Homo sapiens: one gene and its partners. The protein of the gene in region 1 purifies or fractionates together with the protein of each later gene. This does not show direct contact. Each region holds a gene or a part of one and is shown in the gene's direction. Other genes may lie near its edges.

The links. Proteins that work in one complex are often made in the same cells at the same time.
Region 2: the proteins of CALU (region 1) and TPM4 fractionate together in Homo sapiens (co-fractionation; one large-scale study listed by BioGRID). This does not show direct contact.
Region 3: the proteins of CALU (region 1) and TRMT10A fractionate together in Homo sapiens (co-fractionation; one large-scale study listed by BioGRID). This does not show direct contact.
Region 4: the proteins of CALU (region 1) and SH3GLB2 fractionate together in Homo sapiens (co-fractionation; one large-scale study listed by BioGRID). This does not show direct contact.

Annotation. Positions count from the first base shown.
Region 1 is NC_000007.14:128,770,359-128,773,900, forward strand, and holds the end of CALU (calumenin isoform a precursor), read left to right. Parts: 3' UTR 1-2,181; coding exon of another isoform or gene 2,182-2,301; 3' UTR 2,302-3,042; downstream 3,043-3,542. Other genes in the region: OPN1SW (short-wave-sensitive opsin 1), read right to left, coding at 2,182-2,301, 3,291-3,530. UniProt on the Homo sapiens protein: Involved in regulation of vitamin K-dependent carboxylation of multiple N-terminal glutamate residues. Seems to inhibit gamma-carboxylase GGCX. Binds 7 calcium ions with a low affinity.
Region 2 is NC_000019.10:16,086,495-16,089,994, forward strand, and holds part of TPM4 (tropomyosin alpha-4 chain), read left to right. Parts: coding exon 1-46; intron 47-1,532; coding exon 1,533-1,603; intron 1,604-2,550; coding exon 2,551-2,626; intron 2,627-3,500. UniProt on the Homo sapiens protein: Binds to actin filaments in muscle and non-muscle cells. Plays a central role, in association with the troponin complex, in the calcium dependent regulation of vertebrate striated muscle contraction.
Region 3 is NC_000004.12:99,557,540-99,561,039, reverse strand, and holds part of TRMT10A (tRNA methyltransferase 10 homolog A), read left to right. Parts: intron 1-1,678; 5' UTR 1,679-1,701; coding exon 1,702-1,886; intron 1,887-2,828; coding exon 2,829-2,991; intron 2,992-3,500. UniProt on the Homo sapiens protein: S-adenosyl-L-methionine-dependent guanine N(1)-methyltransferase that catalyzes the formation of N(1)-methylguanine at position 9 (m1G9) in tRNAs. Probably not able to catalyze formation of N(1)-methyladenine at position 9 (m1A9) in tRNAs.
Region 4 is NC_000009.12:129,008,934-129,011,331, reverse strand, and holds part of SH3GLB2 (endophilin-B2), read left to right. Parts: intron 1-566; coding exon of another isoform or gene 567-638; coding exon 639-662; intron 663-1,122; coding exon 1,123-1,212; intron 1,213-1,460; coding exon 1,461-1,561; intron 1,562-1,864; coding exon of another isoform or gene 1,865-1,879; intron 1,880-1,985; coding exon 1,986-2,226; intron 2,227-2,398.

The DNA of each region.
Region 1 (3,542 bases):
AAAAACCACATGCTGCTGAATTTACCAGGGATCCTCATACCTCACAATGCAAACCACTTACTACCAGGCCTTTTTCTGTGTCCACTGGAGAGCTTGAGCTCACACTCAAAGATCAGAGGACCTACAGAGAGGGCTCTTTGGTTTGAGGACCATGGCTTACCTTTCCTGCCTTTGACCCATCACACCCCATTTCCTCCTCTTTCCCTCTCCCCGCTGCCAAAAAAAAAAAAAAAGGAAACGTTTATCATGAATCAACAGGGTTTCAGTCCTTATCAAAGAGAGATGTGGAAAGAGCTAAAGAAACCACCCTTTGTTCCCAACTCCACTTTACCCATATTTTATGCAACACAAACACTGTCCTTTTGGGTCCCTTTCTTACAGATGGACCTCTTGAGAAGAATTATCGTATTCCACGTTTTTAGCCCTCAGGTTACCAAGATAAATATATGTATATATAACCTTTATTATTGCTATATCTTTGTGGATAATACATTCAGGTGGTGCTGGGTGATTTATTATAATCTGAACCTAGGTATATCCTTTGGTCTTCCACAGTCATGTTGAGGTGGGCTCCCTGGTATGGTAAAAAGCCAGGTATAATGTAACTTCACCCCAGCCTTTGTACTAAGCTCTTGATAGTGGATATACTCTTTTAAGTTTAGCCCCAATATAGGGTAATGGAAATTTCCTGCCCTCTGGGTTCCCCATTTTTACTATTAAGAAGACCAGTGATAATTTAATAATGCCACCAACTCTGGCTTAGTTAAGTGAGAGTGTGAACTGTGTGGCAAGAGAGCCTCACACCTCACTAGGTGCAGAGAGCCCAGGCCTTATGTTAAAATCATGCACTTGAAAAGCAAACCTTAATCTGCAAAGACAGCAGCAAGCATTATACGGTCATCTTGAATGATCCCTTTGAAATTTTTTTTTTGTTTGTTTGTTTAAATCAAGCCTGAGGCTGGTGAACAGTAGCTACACACCCATATTGTGTGTTCTGTGAATGCTAGCTCTCTTGAATTTGGATATTGGTTATTTTTTATAGAGTGTAAACCAAGTTTTATATTCTGCAATGCGAACAGGTACCTATCTGTTTCTAAATAAAACTGTTTACATTCATTATGGGGTATGTATGACCTTCATTTTCCAAGAAATAGAACTCTAGCTTAGAATTATGGATGCTCTAAAATGTCAGAATGGGAACTCTCCTCGAAGTTCTCCCAAACTCAGAGACAGCACTGCCTTCTCCTAAATGATTATTCTTTTCTCCCTGTTTTCTGGTATTTTCTAGCATCCTTCTCACCACAGCCATAACCCTTTTTTACTTCCATTAGGCCGTATAACTGGAGAGACCTGCTGCTCGTTATATAATTATCTGATACCAAACACAAGCGATTCTGAATGTACACACACGTTTATCTATAGAGCATAAGGTAAAACAATTTTGTTTAACATTTTGGTATTGTTTACAAATGTTATTAAAACATGCAAATTCATTTTGAGAACCTCGAGAGAATTAAACTATTAACTTTAGTAAACACACAGTTTAAGACAAATATAAAGGTTTAGCCAAATGCAACGGGGAGGAAGCACCTGGAATAATTTGTGCTTGCTCAGGGGCTTGTGGACATGGCTGTTCCTGCCAAAGCTGTAGCAGTTATCCAAAAGTTCTTTCAAACTCATATTTGGGGCCACTGAGTTTTTTTTGTTTTTTTTTTTGTTTTGTTTTGTTTTTTCTTTATGTCTCTCCCATTTCTAAAGTGTTTTCTTAAGTTTGTTCTAATTCAGCATATATCATCTCAGAATGGATCCCCAGCAGGAAAAAAAAAAAAAGTTACTAAAAAGGAAAGTATCCATACACTGAAAACTTAAAGCATATTCCTTTTTGGTTGCCTTGTATGTAGAAATCAGTTCTCCAAGTGCTGTGAATGGTGCCACTTAGGAGTAGAAACTGATGATTGTTGAAATGGCCTTTGGGTGGTCTGAAATAGACCAGTGGAAACAGTAGCTTTGTAGGCAAGAAGGCAATAGTAAGAAAATGAAAAATTGACTCCCCAAACTGCCATCACTCCTTTTACCATCTTTTTTGTGTTTTTAGTAGTTTGGTTTCTGACGGAGACAATAGAAACTTACTTAAAAGTAAAATTTAATTCTAGCTGTTGCAAACAGGCCAATATTGGGTCCTCAGTTGGGGCCAACTTGGGTAGACGAGACAGTAGAAACTTCTGTTTTCTGGGAGCTGCATGTGTCGGATTCATCTGTCATGGCCTTCCCACACACCATCTTCATGATGCAAGCTTGGAACTGGAGAGAAAGGTACAATTGGAGATAACCTTGGCAGATGAGGAAGTATGGGAAAAAAGACCTTATTCTCTGTATCACCAAAGCCTTGCACAATGCTTTGTACCCAGAATGCCCTTAGGTGGTTTTGAATCTATCTTCCCCATCCTGAAAACTATCTAGATTCCAGTCTAGAACTACTCCTGGGTCTACGGTAATCCTAAACTGGTCAAGTCTGAGACCTCACTGTTGGTAAATTCACAAACCATCCTGCTTCATAAAAGCACTGTCAGCAGAGGCCCCTCCATTACTAGCAGGTGCTCCCAGCTGGAAAGGACTGCCAATTCTCTTCTATCCAGGGAGGTTTCAAATTAGTTTTGAGTCTACCTCTGGGATTGAGGAAACAATACCATCTGAAAGTAGGGTTTTTGCCACTTAGGGTTTGGTGTTTATTAGCTCGGATTTCAGATGGGATAGGAAATCCCCCAGTACCTTCAGATGATAAGATATTTTAGAGATTTTTGCATGTGGTATGATTTCTGTGCTTCACACATGCTCGTGCAGGCTAAAAGTTGGAAGGGAAATGATTAAGAAATTATTAAATGCAAGGACTGAAAATTGAGAGGAATCTGAGTTTTTATTTTTATTTTTTTAATTTTATTTAAGTTCCAGGATACATGTGCAGGATGTGCAGGTTTGTTACATAGGTAAACGTGTGCCATGGTGGTTTGCTGCACGAGTTTTTCAATAAAATGCTTTCATTCATCCTGTTCTTTGGAGCAACTTCATTTTCCTGACTCAAGTTCTTTCCTCCGGGGTTCTATTTTCTCGTCTTGATAACCGTGCCTTCCTCCCTGTGCTTACCAAAGGCTTCCCAACCTACTCGGGGGTTTTGTGGCTTCCCTCGTCTACTAGAAACCTGGGTAGAGTCCAGGGTGCTCTGAGTTAAAAGTCAATGGTGAGAAAAGAACCAGGGTCTTCTGGACCATAGGAATGTGAATAAAGAGCTTTACCTGCTTATTCATGAAGCAGTAGATGATGGGATTGTAGATGCAAGCACTCTTGGAGAAGAATGAAGGAATGGTGACAAGCCGTAAGTCCAGCCCATGGTTACGGTTGTTGACCATGTACATGGCGAAGGCCGCGTAGGGCACGTAGCAGACACAGAAGGATCCTACCATCACAACCACCATGCGGCTCACCTCCCGTTCAGCCTTCTGGGTCGTAGCTGACTCCTGCTGCTGAGCTGCAACCTGGGGTGGAGC
Region 2 (3,500 bases), on another chromosome or scaffold:
AGAGGCCAAGCACATTGCGGAAGAGGCTGACCGCAAATACGAGGAGGTGAGTGGGGCTGGCAGATGGCGCAGCAGCAGGAAGTGGGAGGAAATGCATCTGCTGAGATAGGGAGGACACCGGGGCCAACGAAAGGAAGCTCTCGGTTAGGTCAGCTGTCCTCCTGCGTGAACATATGTTTGTCCAGAGACAACCACTTGGCTAGGAAACTATCTCCCACGATGCCAGAAAGTGCTGCGGACGCTTGTCTAACGTAATGGGAAAACCGAATGATCAGCTCACTTGTGTCGTTAGCTGGGAGTTTTGGCACAGTTGGGCAAAAATGGAGGATTGTGGTCCCAAGCCATGGAGTTTCAGACCATGCAAGCTCAGGCCCTCCTTTGCCTCCCTCGATGGCTCGGCTCTTCCCTCCCGCCTCTTGTCTGCCTCGCTCCTCAGGCTTGAGGAAGAGAATCAGGATTTCCTCCAGGCCCCAGGATGGCTCTTTCAGTTGAAGCGCCAGCAAAAGGCCAGGCGCGGTGGCTCGTACCTGTAACCCCAGCACTTCGACCGAGGCGGGAGGATCACCTGAGGCCAGGAGTTTGAGACCAGCCTGGGCAACATAGTGAGACCCCATTTCTAAAAATAATAATAATAATAATTAGCTGGGTGTGGTGGCATGCACCTGTAGTCCCAGCTACTTGGGAGGCTGAGGCAGGAGGATCGCTTGAACCTGGGAAGTCAAGGCTGCAGTGAGCTCTGACCACGCCACTGCACTCCAGCCTTGGAGACAGAGCAAGACCCTCTGTCAAAAACATAAAAGGGCTGGGCATGGTGGCTCACGCCGGTAATCCCAGCACTTTGGGAGGCCAAGGCAGGCAGATCACCTGAGGTCAGGAGTTCATGACCAGCCTGGCCAACGTGGTGAAACCCTGTCTCTACAAAAAATACAAAAATTAGCCGGGCATGGTCGTGCATGCCTGTAAGCCCAGCTATTTGGAAGGCTGAGACAGGAGATTCACTTGAACCCAGGAGGCAGAGGTTGCAGTGAGTCAAGGTTGAGCCACTGCATTTCAGCCTGGGTGATGGAGCGAGACTCTGTCTCAAAAGAATAAAAAAATAAAAAAGAGGCCAGGTGTGGTGGCTCATGCCTATAATCCCAGCACTCTGGGAGGCCGAGGTAGGTGGATCAGGAGGTCAGGAATTCGAGACCAGCCTGGCCACTACGGTGAAACCCCATCTCGACTGAAAATACAAAAATTAGCTGGGCGTGGTGGCACGCGCCTGTAGTCCCAGCTACTTGGAAGGCTGAGGCAGGAGAATCGCTTGAACCCAGGAGGTGGAGGTTGCAGTGAGCCGAGACTGTGCCACTGCACTCCAGCCTGGGCAACAGAGGGAGACTCCGTCCCCCTGCAAAAAAAAGAAACACCAGAAAAACCCATGTTGCAGCTGGTCTAGGGGTCTGGGTGGGGCATCATTGGGGGCTGTCTGCAGTGGATGGGAGAGGACACGGCTGGTGGGGATCGGGCTCAGCTGGGCCTTTCTGTCTCTGCAGGTAGCTCGTAAGCTGGTCATCCTGGAGGGTGAGCTGGAGAGGGCAGAGGAGCGTGCGGAGGTGTCTGAACTGTGAGTGGCAGAACAGGACTGAGCGAGGCTGGCTCGATTCCTGGGGCGGAGTGGGAAGGAGCTGGCTGTGTTGGGAATTGGCTCTGACCGGGGTCTCTGCTCAAGTGGACGGGCGTCAGGGGCTCATGGCTCATCTTTTCTCTTGGCTTCTGTGACAAAGAGGTGGTGACTTGTTCTTACTGCCATGGGAAGCACTGCCCACGTGTTGACCCTTTCTGCAAAGATATGAGGAAATAGGAGTGAGACAGGAGGCAGCAGGGAAGCCCAGAAGTCCCATTTTCCCAGAGAGGATATCTCAGGGGGCTGTGCCATCTTAACAGAACACTGACCTGCTCCAGAAGGCAGGCTCCCCCGGTCAGTATGTAAATGCTTTTGCTCCTGTCAGTGTTTGGCCGTGACACATTCCTGGCGGGAAGGTGAGAAGCTTAACCAGAATCCCACAAGCAAGCACCGAAAAACAAAACACCTGTCCTCTTGGCCCCGGGTGAGGAATTCAGCCCCACAGAGCATCCGGGAGTGCTGAGAGAGATCTGGTTTCACAAATCCACTCCGGGCTTCCTTCCCGGAGTGTCCCCTGCAAACTCCCATTGCTCTCTGCCCGCCTTCTGCCCTCAGTCCCATTCTTACACCTTCCGGAGTCGGCCTCATCAATCATAGATTTCACAAGTCCTTGCAGCCTTACCCTTGGCAAAAGACCAGGAGTGTTTTCCAAGCCCTCCAAATACTCTTCGGGCGCACCTCGCCTCTGCCTGGTATGATAAGCCTTTGATAAGCCCATAGTATCACACTGCAGAAAAATCCATTAACATTTTCTCCCCACATTCCTTCTGCCCCCCACCGGGGGAGCTGTGTAGGTTTCTCCTTTGGAAAATTTATTGTTGGGGCGATTGCTATTATTGCCGGCTGTAAGGGAAGATAAGACACAAAAATCCTTTGTCTTTGTGCAGAAAATGTGGTGACCTGGAAGAAGAACTCAAGAATGTTACTAACAATCTGAAATCTCTGGAGGCTGCATCTGAAAAGGTAGGTGGTTGGCTTGAGCTGGAGGGTGGCTTGCTGGACTTTGTTCTTTTCTTCTCCCGAGGGATGCAGGAGCCTGTCAGGTTATGGGGAATCTGCCCTTTATTTAACAGTAGCGTTGGTGCCTGGCAGCCAGGGTTTTTCCCCTACAGAAAGAGCTGGATTTCTCCTGCACACTCTTGAGTCCTCTTCCATGGGGTCTGAGCACCATCTTTGATCTCCATCTCAGGAGGATAGAGATAGAACATGAGGCTCTTCTTAGCGAGATCTGAGCATAGTTGTATAAATAAATACAGAGCCTGCCTCTCACCTGATTCCCCTGGTTCCTCCAGAAATACCATCTCAAAGGTATAGCAATGATCAGAGGTGGAATTGGGCTTTTTAGTTTGAAACAGCACCCAAAGCAGTTGCTACGTGGCAGCTACGTCGGGAACAAAGGACACACTTCCACGGCCGAACCCCACTGAATTTCCCAGCCTCTTCCTCATTCTTGCTCCTGCTTTTGCAGTTTCACAGACATTCTTTGTTCTCCCATCACCTCCACCCCCCACTTTTTTTTTTTTTTTTTTGAGACAGAGCTTCGCTCTGTTGCCCAGGCTGGAATTCAGTGGCATGATCATAGTTCATTGCAGCCTTGAACTCCCAGGCTCAAGCGATCCTCCCACCTCAGCCACCACCTGCTATTCACTCAACTGGGTGTGGCTTTCCTTTTGCTTGATAAACCCCTATTCAGCCTTTTTTTTTCTTTTCTTTTTTTTTGAGACAGGGTCTCACTCTGTCACCCAGGCTGGAGTGAAGTGGCGTGATCTCAGCTTACTGCAGCCTTCGACTCCCAAGTTCAAGCAATTCTCCCACCTCAGCCTCCCGATTACACGCT
Region 3 (3,500 bases), on another chromosome or scaffold:
GGCGGAGGTTGCAGTGAACGGAGATCGCGCCACTGCACTCCAGCCTGGGTGACAGAGCAAGACTCTGTCTCCAAAAAAAAAAAAAAAATCTTCACATAGAGCTAATCAACACATGCCGTTTTTGAATAAAATAGAGAACTAACTGAAAATGATGCCACTGATAAACAGAAATGTACTCTCTTGGAATATTATTATTTCATGAAGAGAGCAATTTGTTTCCTGTGAATTTTAATTGTGCTTTTAAGTTTCCTCCACTCGGTGTCGTTTTGGATACCTGCATAGCTGAATTTTATTTAATGTATTGTGTATTGCAAGAAAGGAAAATAAAAGTGATCCAGGGGATCAAAATACATATTTTTTAATTTTTTTCCATCTAGCCTTTTTAGGCTTATTCAGTTTCCCCACCTCCAGTTTCTTAAATTGAATGCTTACCTTACTTTCTAGATTTTTTTTAAAAAAATTAATGAATGCATTCAAGGCTATATGTTTATCTCTAATTACCTTTTTTTCCTGTATCTCTCTTATTCTGTTATCCAAGTCTTTACTGCTCCTCCATATTATTTTTCTGTTCTATTTGTGTCTGCATCCTGAGTCAGATTGTCTTCTAAGTCATCAGTTACTTCTTGGGACTCCAGATAATCTGGAGTTTGTCTCTTCTATTGAACTTTTTATGTCTTCATTTCCTAGTTTTCACAGATTCTTTTTCACTGATTCTGTTCTTTTTCACTGATTCTTGTTTTACTTTTTAGTAAAGCCTGCTTTTATATCACAACTTTCTGTCTTGTTCTTATACTTCTTATTCCCTTATGACCTCTCTGAAATATTTCAGCCAAATTTATTTTAAAGTCATTTTGATTGCCCTATTTTTAATTTGTATCAAGTGAATTTATTTCTTGGTTATTGATTTCAGTTTTAAAAATCAGTTCTGTCTTTTTGTAGTTTCCCTCATTCTACAGCATTAAAAAAGACTATAGAAAAGATGCTTTTCATCTCTTTTTAAAATTTTTTGTTTTATTAAAAACAATATATTTTCATTATATAACTTTAGAAAATGCAGAAAACTGTGGGTAAGAATTAAACGTGTGTGTGTATACCTTTTTAAAAAAGTTGGTCGTAATGTATATATTGTTTTCTTTGATTTTGTTTAATGTATAACCGTTTCCCCTTATCATTAAATATTTTTGGATATATAAGTTTTTCTGGCTGCTTAATATTCCTTGCCCATGTTATAGATTAACCGTAATTGTTTAGTTTCCTTTCACTGACATTCAGGAGGTTTCTAACTTTTCACTGTTAAAAATAACACTGCATTGCATATACTCTTGTGCACATTTTTGTGTGCATTTCTGATTTATTTACAGAAATTTAAGGAAATACTGAGTCAAAGGGTGTCTAAATAGAGATTTTGAAGCTCTTAAAACATATATATGTGTTGCCTTCTGGAAAAATTGTACCATGACCACCAGTAGTATATGAAACACCCCATTTCTTTAGACCTTTACTAGCATTGCTGAATATTTAATTGATATTAAATGGTATTTAAATGATATTTACAATTAAATGACATTTATTTGTCTAAAGTTTTATTTATATTATTTTATGGTTTAACTTTAATCATATTGATTATTTGAGTTTTTTAACTTTTTTGTGCTTGTAAATTATCTATTCATGTCAAAAGTTGTTTTTCAGAGGCACCAAATAATGTCATCTGAAATGTTGCCAGCATTTATTGAAACTTCTAATGTTGACAAAAAGCAAGGCATAAATGAAGATCAAGAGGAGAGCCAGAAGCCAAGATTAGGTGAAGGGTGTGAACCAATATCTAAACGACAAATGAAAAAACTAATAAAACAGAAACAATGGGAAGAGCAACGGGAACTCCGCAAGTATGTGTTTCAAAATGTATATGCTCTCTTCCTATTTAGAGATATGCAATGTTAAACCTTGCATAGCCCTTTGGCATATTAAATGTAATTGTGTTACTTAAAATTCAATTACTAATTTTAGACAAAAGCGTAAAGAAAAACGCAAGAGAAGAAAATTGAAGCTAACAACGTATATTGTTAGCTAACACTGTCAACTGGCTGTTAAAACTATTTTTTAAAATTGTTTGGGTTTCTTTTAGCACTGTTGATGATCTTGCACTCAACACTTTTTCTAATGCAGAACCTTATTATGAGTAGCAGCACAATTTTTGAAACAACTGACTTAGATAAGGGATGTAATTAGTGTCTGTGTGCTAGTTATGGAATAAAAACAGCCAACTCAGAAAGATCAAGTTTTGGCCTGACATTGATTTTGCCACAAGAACTGTTGCAGGTTTTGGTGAAAGCAGTTTGGCTAAATTTGTCGTTGTAATAAATGCCAAAATTTATGGAGAGAAAATAAACTGTAGTTGGTGTAAATTAGAGAAAAAGTATGTAATTTTTTTAATGAACAATTTTATTTTGCTTTTTTCTATACCTTATAAATGTGGCTTAAAAATCATATAGGTAAATTATGAAAATAAAATTCGTCATAACTCAAACTCAGTATTTATAAGGTTAGGGATAGTATGATACCAATAACAAATGAAACTATTCAGATAGTATAGTTAGGATTTAGATAGAAAGCTTTAGATCATTTTTGGAAGCTCATTTCCTTCCTATCTGAAGCTTTTAGATGGGTTGTATAAAACTGCTAATACTTGACCATTTTTGAATGGTCACAGAAGTGACAATTTCATATGATTTAACCTGATGATTTTTAAAAGGAATTGTTTATTTAGAAGAGTCTTGTAAATAACTGAATACACAATAACAAAATGTTATTTCAATTACTAATTTTAGACAAAAGCGAAAAGAAAAACGCAAGAGGAAAAAATTAGAGCGACAATGTCAAATGGAACCAAACTCAGATGGACATGACAGAAAACGTGTTCGAAGAGATGTTGTTCATAGCACCCTTCGCCTTATTATTGACTGTAGTTTTGATCACTTGATGGTATTAAAGGTATCATGAATCATTGTCAGAAAAATCTTGTATGTGAATTAGGTCGAATCATTTTTGTTTTAATATGCAATATCCCTTTTATGTAAATTTGTGTATTGAAATGAATCTTCAGTTTTTCAAACTTTCCCCTAAGTTAAATTAGCTAGCAAATTGCATTGATATAATAAATATGTGTATTTATATATGTGTGTATGTGTGTGTGTCAGTATGTGTGCAGACAGGAAAGAGAGACAAACACACACTTTGTAGTCTAGATGACAGAACTAAATTAACTACTTATTGATCATAAAGATCTGTGGGGTTTTACCAGTGTTGTTGGTAAAACATGAAAATAGTAATAGTATGGCTCTAAAAGTCTTGTTGTTGTCTCTTTAGAGAGTAGCCGTTTTCATGAACTAGCATTTTAAATAAATACAAAATATGAAATAATGGGTCACTTACAGAGCATTAACTTACAGTAATTTTGCTAGTATGTAAGGAAATCAAATAACATTTATCAGAATGCATTT
Region 4 (2,398 bases), on another chromosome or scaffold:
ACACTGGCCTGGGTCCGCATTCCCTATTTCAGGCTGTTGTCTCGGGTCAGATCTCCGGAAGCGGCAGGAGCGCTGGGTCTCCTGGTCGTGGCCGGGCAGCGTCTTTCTTCTTCAGGGTCTGGATGCCACTTCCCGCCTCCTCCCTGTGCCCAGTGGAAGGAGAAACATCCTAGAGGGTGGAGACTGCCCTGTTTTTCTTTTGCCATTGAGTCCCAGTGTGACTCAAGCACGAGGCCACCTTTCTCTGCCAGAGGACAGAAAGCTTCAGTGACTGGCCCAGGGTCACACAGTTCTGCCGCCCAGCCCAGCAGCCTGAGCCAGCAGTCAGGATGGGGTGGGGACACTCCGTCTCTCTTGAGACCCCACTCAGAGAATGGGGCTGACACTGTAGGAGAAATATAAGCAGGACTCCTGCTGGCTGCTCCCCTCCTGCATGAGGCATGTTAGAGGGACTGGGACCGCCAGCCCCCAGCTCCCATGCCGGGCCTCGGCCCAGTCTCAGCTCCTGTTTGGGAGGGGGGGCAGAGGGGCAGGGGGGCAGAAGTTGAGTCTGGGAGCTGGGGCAGGGCACAGGCTCTAGGGTCCAGCTGTCCTCCTCTCCCCTCCCCTGCTGGCCACTCCTGCTGCCGTCTCCACAGCTCTGGAATGATGAAGTGGACAAGGTAAGTTGGGGCCTGGGGGGCTGGGCTCGAGGAAGAAGGGGTGGCGGGGTGCAGGCACACTTGCTGCTGTGGGGTCTGATCTGTTTCTCACTCTGCCCCACACCCACTGGGGAGGGGTTACTGCTTTCCCTCCCTGGGCCTCAGTTTCCCCTCTGTGGGGAAATGTTTTCTCCACAGTACCCTGTAGCACACAGTAGGCCCTCAGGATGCACTTGCTGGGTGGATTTCTCCGATGGGTGATGGAGGAAGGGTCTGTCACTGCAGCTGCCTGTGGGGTCCTGAGTGGGGCTCTAGCTTCTCTGGGGTTGGGGCTCCAGGTGTGAAGTCAGGCATAGACCCAGAAGGCTCTCTGTGTTCCCAGGGGAAAGGGACAGGCGGCTCCCAGGTAGGCTCCAGGAGAAGACTGCGGGGAAGCTGGTGGGTGGTGTGTGGGTGCTCATGGCTGCCCTGCCCTGCCCAGGCCGAGCAGGAGCTCCGCGTGGCCCAGACAGAGTTTGACCGGCAAGCAGAAGTGACCCGTCTCTTGCTGGAGGGAATCAGTAGCACTCACGTGAGTCCCACTGCCCACCCTCACTAAACCTAACCCTCAGCAGGCACCAGGTGTGCCTGAACCACAAGGTCAGCAGGGCTGCCCCAGAATGGCCCTCACAGAGCAAGTCCCACCGGGGAGGGTGTGGGCGCAGGGGCAGGGCACCCTGGAATGCCGGAGCAAGGTCTGGTAGAGGACGGGGATGGGGACGGAATTTTTTGTTCTGAGGGCGGGAGGTTAGAAGTCAGCCTCTGGCCTCTTCCCCGCAGGTGAACCACCTGCGCTGCCTCCACGAGTTCGTCAAGTCTCAGACAACCTACTACGCACAGTGCTACCGCCACATGCTGGACTTGCAGAAGCAGCTGGGCAGGTGCGGGGCCAGCACTGCTGAACCCACTGGGGCCCCCTGGCTCCCATACCCTGTCCGTGGGCAGCATGAGCTCCTCTGGGCAAGTCCTGTGACACAAAGCTGGGTTGGAGGGCTCTGCTGGAACCCACTCTGGGTGCGGGCATCTCATGTGTATGAGGGTGGAGTGGCTGGCCTTACTGACGGCCAAGTCCCCTGGAGCCCCTGAGGGTTTCTAGGGAATGCCTGGGTGGGGAGGATGGCAGGGACCAGGGGGTGGGGCCATCTCACCCTTCCCTTGCTTTGCTTTTCCCTTTGTGCTGCCAGCTCCCAGGGTGCCATGTGAGTAGCCGGGGCTGGAGTGGGGCTCCTGGGGCTGGGGAGGGGAGTTTGCCTCTGGGGTCCCTTCTGGGACTCCCACCTGCTAAGATGTATCCCTCCTCTCCAGATTTCCCGGCACCTTCGTGGGCACCACAGAGCCCGCCTCCCCACCCCTGAGCAGCACCTCACCCACCACTGCTGCGGCCACTATGCCTGTGGTGCCCTCTGTGGCCAGCCTGGCCCCTCCGGGGGAGGCCTCGCTCTGCCTGGAAGAGGTGGCCCCCCCTGCCAGTGGGACCCGCAAAGCTCGGGTGCTCTATGACTACGAGGCAGCCGACAGCAGTGAGCTGGCCCTGCTGGCTGATGAGGTGGGCCCGGTGCCGCAAGGTGGGGCAGGAATGGGCTGGGTGAGGAGCAGCCTGGGCACTGGGATCAGGCACATGGGGCCTGGAGGGGCCCTGTTGGCAAAGTGGGGACCAGCAGGTTAAAGAGGGCATATCCAGCTCTGAGGAAAGGATCCTTGCTCTGCTGGGTCTCTGG